2 linked regions of the Homo sapiens genome follow. The protein of the gene in region 1 interacts with the protein of each later gene in a pairwise test. Each region holds a gene or a part of one and is shown on either strand. Other genes may lie near its edges. The genes, in order: TBL1XR1 and ARL2.

What was found.
Region 2: the proteins of TBL1XR1 (region 1) and ARL2 interact in binary tests that used the Homo sapiens proteins (3 or more experiments, as listed by UniProt).

What each region holds. Positions count from the first base shown.
Region 1 is NC_000003.12:177,190,704-177,194,615, forward strand, and holds part of TBL1XR1 (F-box-like/WD repeat-containing protein TBL1XR1), read right to left. Parts: intron 1-3,912. UniProt on the Homo sapiens protein: F-box-like protein involved in the recruitment of the ubiquitin/19S proteasome complex to nuclear receptor-regulated transcription units. Plays an essential role in transcription activation mediated by nuclear receptors.
Region 2 is NC_000011.10:65,016,877-65,020,788, reverse strand, and holds part of ARL2 (ADP-ribosylation factor-like protein 2), read right to left. Parts: intron 2,426-3,912; coding exon 2,315-2,425; intron 2,285-2,314; exon of another isoform or gene 2,219-2,284; coding exon 2,056-2,218; intron 371-2,055; coding exon 290-370; intron 1-289. UniProt on the Homo sapiens protein: Small GTP-binding protein which cycles between an inactive GDP-bound and an active GTP-bound form, and the rate of cycling is regulated by guanine nucleotide exchange factors (GEF) and GTPase-activating proteins (GAP).

The sequences.
Region 1 (3,912 bases):
TGTGACTATAGCACACCTAAATCTTTAAGGTCTAACTCAAAAAGAAGATGCTGCCACATTACAGTGGAACAGGGCTGTCACTGCTCCCATTTTAACACAGGCCCTCACAATCCATTTTAACATGAAAATGGTATTAAGAACTCTGCCAAATGCTGGAAGGAAAAAGGTCCATCCGTTCAAGAAACATCGTAGTTGGGGCAACAAAACAATAAACAGTTATGGGATTTGTGATCTTCATTAAGTGCAATGGAATCTCAGAGAAGAAATATCCTGAGTCAGGATGGCCAGAAAAGGATTCATGGAAGAAGGGGGACTGAAACTAGGCTATAAGAAGGACAAAGGGAACAACAGCATGCACAAAAGCAAAGTAGTGAGTATGGCAAAAACTACCGTATTTGAGAGGCCGGCAAGAATCCCAACTAAGAGTGAGAAATAAAGCTGAATAGGTAGAATGGAACCTTCTTAAAAGCCAGACTGAAGCATACAAATTCAATCCAGTTGGCAAAGAGAATCCATTATGGGTTCTCCAGCAGGGGAACTGACAAGATGAAACCAGTACTTTAAATAAATTACACTGTCAGTAGTTACAGAAGATAAAATGAATAAGAAAGGTTGCTCAGGGCAACCAAATAAAAACTTAATAATCCAGACCTACAACCATTCATTCATTGAGAAGACAGACTGCTAGGTAACAACACTGGCCTAGAATTCACACAAACTGGGCCTAAATTCCTGCTCTGTCCCCTACTACCTGAGCCTCAATTTTCTCACTGTTAAATTCAGGCATCAGCACTCAGACTGTCACAGTACTTGTCAAAGCACCTGTATAGTCCTGATACATAGAACTTTTGACTATTAGCAAAGTGAACACTAGTGCTAAATTAAGTATGGTTAAAAATGGGAAGTGAACATAAGATAAGGCTCATAGAGGAACTGAACTTCTAAGGACAACTATCTAGACAGCATCTGATAATACGGAAAAGAATACACAGATAAAAAGTGGTCAGGAAAAATAAAATAAAACCACCTACCCAAAGTAATCACTACAGCCTAAAAGGCAGACCCTAGGTTCTGCTGGACCCAAACCTTGAAAGAGTTCCCTTTGTATTTAAAGAGTTTGCCTGGCACGGTGGCTCATGCCTGTAATCCCAGCACTTTGGGAGGCCGAGACGGGCGGTCAGGAGTTCGAGACCAGCCTGACCAACATGGTGAAACCCCATCTCTACTAAAGATACAAGAAATTAGCCAGGCAAGTGACAGGCGCCTGTAATCCCAGCTACTTGGGAGGCTGAGGTAGGGGAATCGCTTGAACCCGGGAGGCAGAGGTTGCAGTGAGCCGAGATCGCACCATTGCACTCCAGCATGGGTGACAGAGCAAGACTCTGTCTCAAAAAAAAAAAAAAAAGAGTTGAAGCTGGGCGCGGTGGCTCACGCCTGTAATCCCAGCACTTTGGGAGGCCAAAGCGGGCAGATCACAAGGTCAAGAGATGGAGACCACATGGTGAAACCCCGTCTCTACTAAAAATACAAAAATTAGCTGGGCGTGGTGGCGCATGCCTATAATCCCAGCTAGGAGGCTGAGGCAGGAGAATCGCTTGAACCCAGGAGGCGCGAGGTTGCAGTAAGAGGAGATCGCGCCATTGCACTCCAACCTGCACTCCAACCTGGGCAACAAACAAAGTGAGACTTTATCTCAAAAAAAAAAAAAAAAGAAAGAAAGTAAGTTGAAAAATGTTTCAAATGGTGCAAGTAGGCTTAAGAAGTCCAACCCAGATGACAGAATAGCAACAAAGGCATGCAAAAAAGATCCACCACCGTACCTACACCAATCATGTAAATTATTCATAGTATATGTAAGCCTTAAACCACAACTTTTTAAGAGTAAAAAAAACCAAGCTAAGTTTACTTCAAATGGGTTACTTAGGAAATGGAGCTATCAAATCCTTCCTATGACATTATGCCCCTACTAAAATAAATAACAAGCAAATAAAATGTAATACAAAGAAACAAACTTCAAAAATCAAACCTATCAGGAGCAACTTACACTTACAGGATGCTTAGAATGTCAACCATTGTTCTAAGTACCTCTCACACACTAACTGGATCTTCTTAACTCTATGAAAGTTGACTGTCCCCTTACACTGATGAAGAAACAAACACATTAGGGCCAGGCGCAATGTGGCTCATGCCTATAATCCCAGCCCTTTGGGAGGCCGAGGCAGGCACGTTACCTGAGGTCAGGAGTTCGAGACCAGCCTGGCCAACATGCTGAAACCCCATCTCTACTAAAAACACAAAAATTAGCCGGGAGTGGTGGCAAGCACCTGTAATCCCAGCTACTTGGGAGGCTGAGGCAGGAGAATCACTTGAACCCAGGAGGCGGAGGTTGCAGTGAGCCGAGATCGCGCCACTGCACTCCAGCCTGGGCAACAGAGCGAAACTCCGTCTCAAAAAAATAAAATAAAATAAAATTTTAAAAAATAAATAAAACGTATGAGGAGCTACTACCCCAACATCACAGCTAGTAAAGGATAGAGCCTGAGTTTGAACTCACTTTAACCACTATGCTACAACACAAAGACTTCAATGATTTTTCTTACACAAATTTTTTGTTTGTTTGTTTTTGAGAGGGTGTCTCCCTCTATCGCCCAGGCTGGAGTGCAATGGCGCGATCTTGGCTCACTGCAACCTCCACCTCCTGGGTTCAAGCGATTCTCCCACCTCAGCCTCCCGAGTAGCTGGGACTACAGGTACCCGCCACCACGCCCAGCTAATTTGTGTATTTTTAGTAGAGACGGGGATTCACCATGCTGGCCAAGATGGTCTCAATCTCTTGACCTCGTGATCCGCCCGCCTTGGCCTTCCAAAGTGCTTGGATTACAGGCGTGAGCCACTGCACCCAGCAAGACTGCATCTTATTAAATGGTGCTAGGGAATTCAGCACAATGATATGAGTTCTATCAATTTCATTTACCCATGTAATCACTCGACCCATTTAGTACAGACGCTCAACTATAGATCATAAACTTGATTAGAAACACAAGTTTTTGGAAGGATGATCTACACGGATCAAGACTAACAAAACAGCTGGGAAAATTCCGCAGATTCAGTCATCTAAGACAGACCCAGGTTTGAATCCTAGTGTTCATTTAATAATTTTGTGGCCTTGAACAAGGGAATTAACTTCTTTGCATCTCTGTTTCATCATCCACAAAAAAAGCCCAACACTATCTACCTCATAGGATTAGCCTAGGGTATAAACAGCATAGAAAGCACCTCACACCTCCTAGAGCATAGCCCGGAGCACCTAGTCCCTCTCCTCTGGCTCTATGGTTACAGGGCAATTAATTGCACTCTTACCGAATCCAATCCCAGAGGGGTAAACAGCCAAATCTCTCCAGCATCAGCGCTCTCAGAGTCTTTTCTTTTTAACTTCAAGTTTCTATTGGTGGCAGAGCAGGAGATACCACCTTCGTGGTACCTAAACTGAACGATACTCAACAATTCTTTACTACACAGCTCTAGGGTCCTAGCCCTCCTCTACTACCAGAATGTCTGAGCATAAAGTATAAATGTCTCGTGTTAGCTGCTTTCCTTTTTTGCATTTCAGTGACTTATACTGTAAATGTTATTTGTGAAATGAGTCCAATTCACATGCACTAGAAAAATACAAGTTCTAGTGAATACCAATGTTTCTGCCATGCCTCTCCCCTGACTTCCTACCATTCACATTCTTCTTTATTCTTTTTATATAAATGACACCAAAAATTGAACAAACCCAACAAATTATTTCAACCAACTTCATCAAAATGTGTCAAGTCAGGAATTCTTTATAATAGTACTGCTACAAGTTGTACTAGGGAGATTCCTTTGTCAGCTACTCGTCTGACAAGGTTGTATATATACTGCACT
Region 2 (3,912 bases), on another chromosome or scaffold:
CAAGCGATTCTCCTGTCTCAGCCTCCTGAGTAGCTGGGCTTACAGGCGCACGCCACTGCACCCAGCTAATTTTTGTATTTTTAGTACAGACGGGGTTTCATCATGTTGGTCAGGCTGGTCTCGAACTCCTGACCTCAGGTGATCCACTCGCCTTGGCCTCCCAAAGTGCTGGTATTACAGGCGTGAGCCACTGCACCCAGCCTTTTTGGTTATTTTTAATAAATGCTTTTAAAATAAATAAATGTATGCCCCTTTCCCTCAGCGAGCCTGTCCCGGGGCCTGGACTCACCTCGCGGATGGCGTTAGAGGACAGTGCTCCAGGCAGGTCCTGCTTATTAGCAAAGATGAGGAGGGTTGCTCCGGCCAGGCGCTGGGGGAGAAAAGATAGAGGGGTGGGGTGGGGACTCAGAGGACAGCCTGACCCCTCCTCTAATGGCCCAGAGCATCTGGGGTGAAGGATCGACCTGGAAGATCAAGGTGAGGCCCCGTGGTGGTGGGAGAGGCCCAGGAGTGAGTTTGTGGACGTAGCCATCAAGGCTGGCCCACATGAATGGAGCAGCCCTGGGCCAGGGTTCTGGTTCCAGCCAACCACCACCCAGGGGACACCGCTGTCCCCATGCTCCAGCTTCCTCTTCCATGAACAGGGAGGGGTGTTGCATAAGATGATCCCTGAGCTCTCCGTGGTTCTAGACTGCTCCAATCTGATGACCAGACATGCACAGAGGATGTGAACTCTCCCTCTTCTGGGTTCACACAGCCCTTTAACCGTTCCACTCCCGACAGGCCTCACTGTCCACCTCTGATTCTAGTTGTTTCCACATATGTGTCTGTGATTGGGAGAGATGTGGGTGGACGGGTCTAACCCTTGGGCCTTGACCTGCCTTGACCAGCATTTGACGGCCCTGATCTCATCTGACCTGCTCCACCCACATAGGAGATGTGTGCGGTGTGCCCAGGACAGTCCCCACTCTGCCTGCAGAATCCCCCCTTTCACTCTCACAAGTGTCCTCATTTTCAACTAAATGCAATTTTGTAGCCTGAATCAAACATTGGAACACAAAAAGTATATTAGTGGAAAAACGTGAAATTCAAATAAAATCTGTAATTAAGATAATAGTAATTCACCAGTGTTGATTTATTAGTTTGGACAGGCCACGGTTAGGTAAGATGGGGAAGCAAGGTAAAGGGTATATGGGGGACCTCTGACCTCTGTACTATCTTTGCAAGTGTCCTTCTTTTTTTTTTTTGAGACGGAGTCTCACTCTGTTGCCCAGGCTGGAGTGCAGTGGCACAATCTCGGCTCACTGCAAGCTCCGCCTCCCAGGTTCACGCCATTTTCCTGCCTCAGCCTCCTGAGTAGCTGGGACTACAGGCGCCCGCCACCATGCCTGGCTAATTTTTTGTATTTTTAGTAGACACGGGGTTTCACCATGTTAGCCAGGACGGTCTCGATCTCCTGACCTCGTGATCCGCCCGCTTCAGCCTCCCAAAGTGCTGGGATTACAGGCGTGAGCCACCGCACCTGGCCCCTTCCTTTTTTTTTTTTTTTGAGACAGGGTCTTGCTCTGTCGCCCAGGAGGCTGGAGTGCAGTGGCACGATCACAGCTCACTGCAGCCTCAACCTCCTGGGCTCAACTGATCCTCCTGTCTGAGCCTCCAGAGTAGCTAGGACTATAGGTGCGTGCCACCACCCCCAGCTGAGGTCACACAGCAAAGAGTCAGACTCTTGAGCCAGGCTCCATGGCCTCTCGAAGCTTCATACTGGCCTTGGGTTATCCTCCCTAAAGCCCAGTGATGTGGGTGTCATCATCACCATTTCAAGGCATAGAAACTGATGCTCAGGGTAGTGACGTAGTAACACCACAGGGACGTTAACTCAATCTCAGTCCACAGCATGTGTCCTGCCTCTGGCACCATGGGCCTCCCATGGTGGGGGCCCAGAGAAGGAAGGGATCCTGCCTCTGGTTTCCCTCTGGGGCCACGGGCCCCTCTGGGCATCTGCTGAGAAGGCAGCCACACGTCCATACATGTACACAAAGGGTAGGAGCTGCCCACCTCCTCCACCAGCAGGCTCTGGAGCTCCCGCTGGCAGTCCTGCATGCGCTGGCGGTCTGCGCTGTCCACTACCCAGATGAGGCCATCGGTGCTCTCAAAGTAGTTCCGCCAGTAGGACCGCAGGGACTTCTGGCCACCCACATCCCAGATGTTCAGCTTGAATCTGGGCAAGGAGCGGGTGACAGGAGGGTCAGCTGGGCCCCTCTCCCACCTTCCCTGCCCTGCTCTGGGCTGGCCCTCCCATGGGGCCCCTGCTCACCCTCGGTGCTCCAGGGTCTTGATGTTGAAGCCCAGCGTTGGGGAGATGGTGTCGATGTCCTCCCCATTGAACTTCTTCAGGATGGTTGTCTTTCCAGCATTGTCCAGGCCACTGGGGCGCAGCAGGTTAAGGAGAAGTCCCTGTTCTCTGCCAGGTGGTGACATTGTTGCAGAGCCCCTTAGGGGACTCATTATTTCCCACCATGTATCAAACTGAGTTGAGCACATGCCTGACCATAATCGGCCCACAATAAATATGAAAGTATCAAATTATAAATATCATCTCTACTGACCAAAGGCTCCTTAATTTGTTGAACACCTACTATGTGCCAGACCCTCTTCTGGGTGCTAGAGGACAAAGCCCTGCCCTTAGGAAGCTTACACTCTAGCGGGAAGACAGTCAATAAAGTACAAACAAATGAGAAAAGAAGGCCCTGCCAGATCCCGGCTAGCGCCATCAACACAACAGAGAGGCTTTCCAAGAGGGCCATCGGAGGAGGCTCTTTCAGCTCAGGTGCCGGGGAAGGCCTCTCTGAGGTGTCTGGAGCTGAGACCCAAAATACAAGGAGCAAGCTTTTTGAAGAACTAAGGTAAGAACAAATATCTGGAGGCAGCCACCCTCATTTGTTTCTGGAATATTCCAGACCTGCTACTGCACAGTGCAAATTAATGGGTGTGCTTACCTGTGGAAGGAACCACCCTCCTCTATCTTCCCAACACTGCAGCTCAGTTGGGCATGGTGGGGTGGGCGGGTCCTGGACTCGACCACCTTTCCCTGCTCATCGGAGCTGGGGCAAATGACCTAGGCCCAGGAGAGGGGTGAGGAGGGCATTTCCCCTGAGGCCCAGCCTTAGCCCCTGGAACCTAGCCGCTGATGACCCCCTGCCCCCAAGCCATCATCCATGTTTCCTTCCCCTCTTGATCATTCCCACTGGCTGATGAGCTTGCCGTTCTTTCTCCCACCTTAAAAAGAGCAAATAGGCCGGGCGCGGTGGCTCACACCTGTAATCCCAGCACTTTGGGAGGCCAAGGTGGGTGGATCATCTGAGGTCAGGAGTTCGAAACCAGCCTGACCAACAAGGTGAAACCCCATCTCTACTAAAACTACAAAAATCAGCCAGGCGTGGTGGCGGGCCCCTATAGTCCCAGCTACTCGGGAGGCTGAGACAGGAGAATTGCTTGAACCCGGCAGGCAGAGGTTGCAATGAGCCGAGATCACACCACTGTACTCCAGCCTGGGCGACTCAGCGAGACCCCGTCTGATTAAAAAAAAAAAAAGAGCAAACAAAGCCCTTGATCTCTCTGCCCCATCTAGTTATTCATTTATATCTTTCCTTTTACAGGAAATCTCAAAATAGTTGTTTGTGCTCACCCCCATTTCTGCCTTCTTGCTCTTTCAAGAACACACTCCCATCAGGCTTTTGCTGCTGCTGTGGCCAAAACTGTCCTTACCAAGGTCAGTCCCCAAAGACCTCCCTGTGGCCCTCTAGTGCTGGGACAGCGCTCAGTCATCTTCTGTTCCCCACTCAGCACCTGATGGAGTGGCTCACCCTCCTCCCCAGCACATGCGCTGCCCTTGGCACTGGGACACACCCTCAC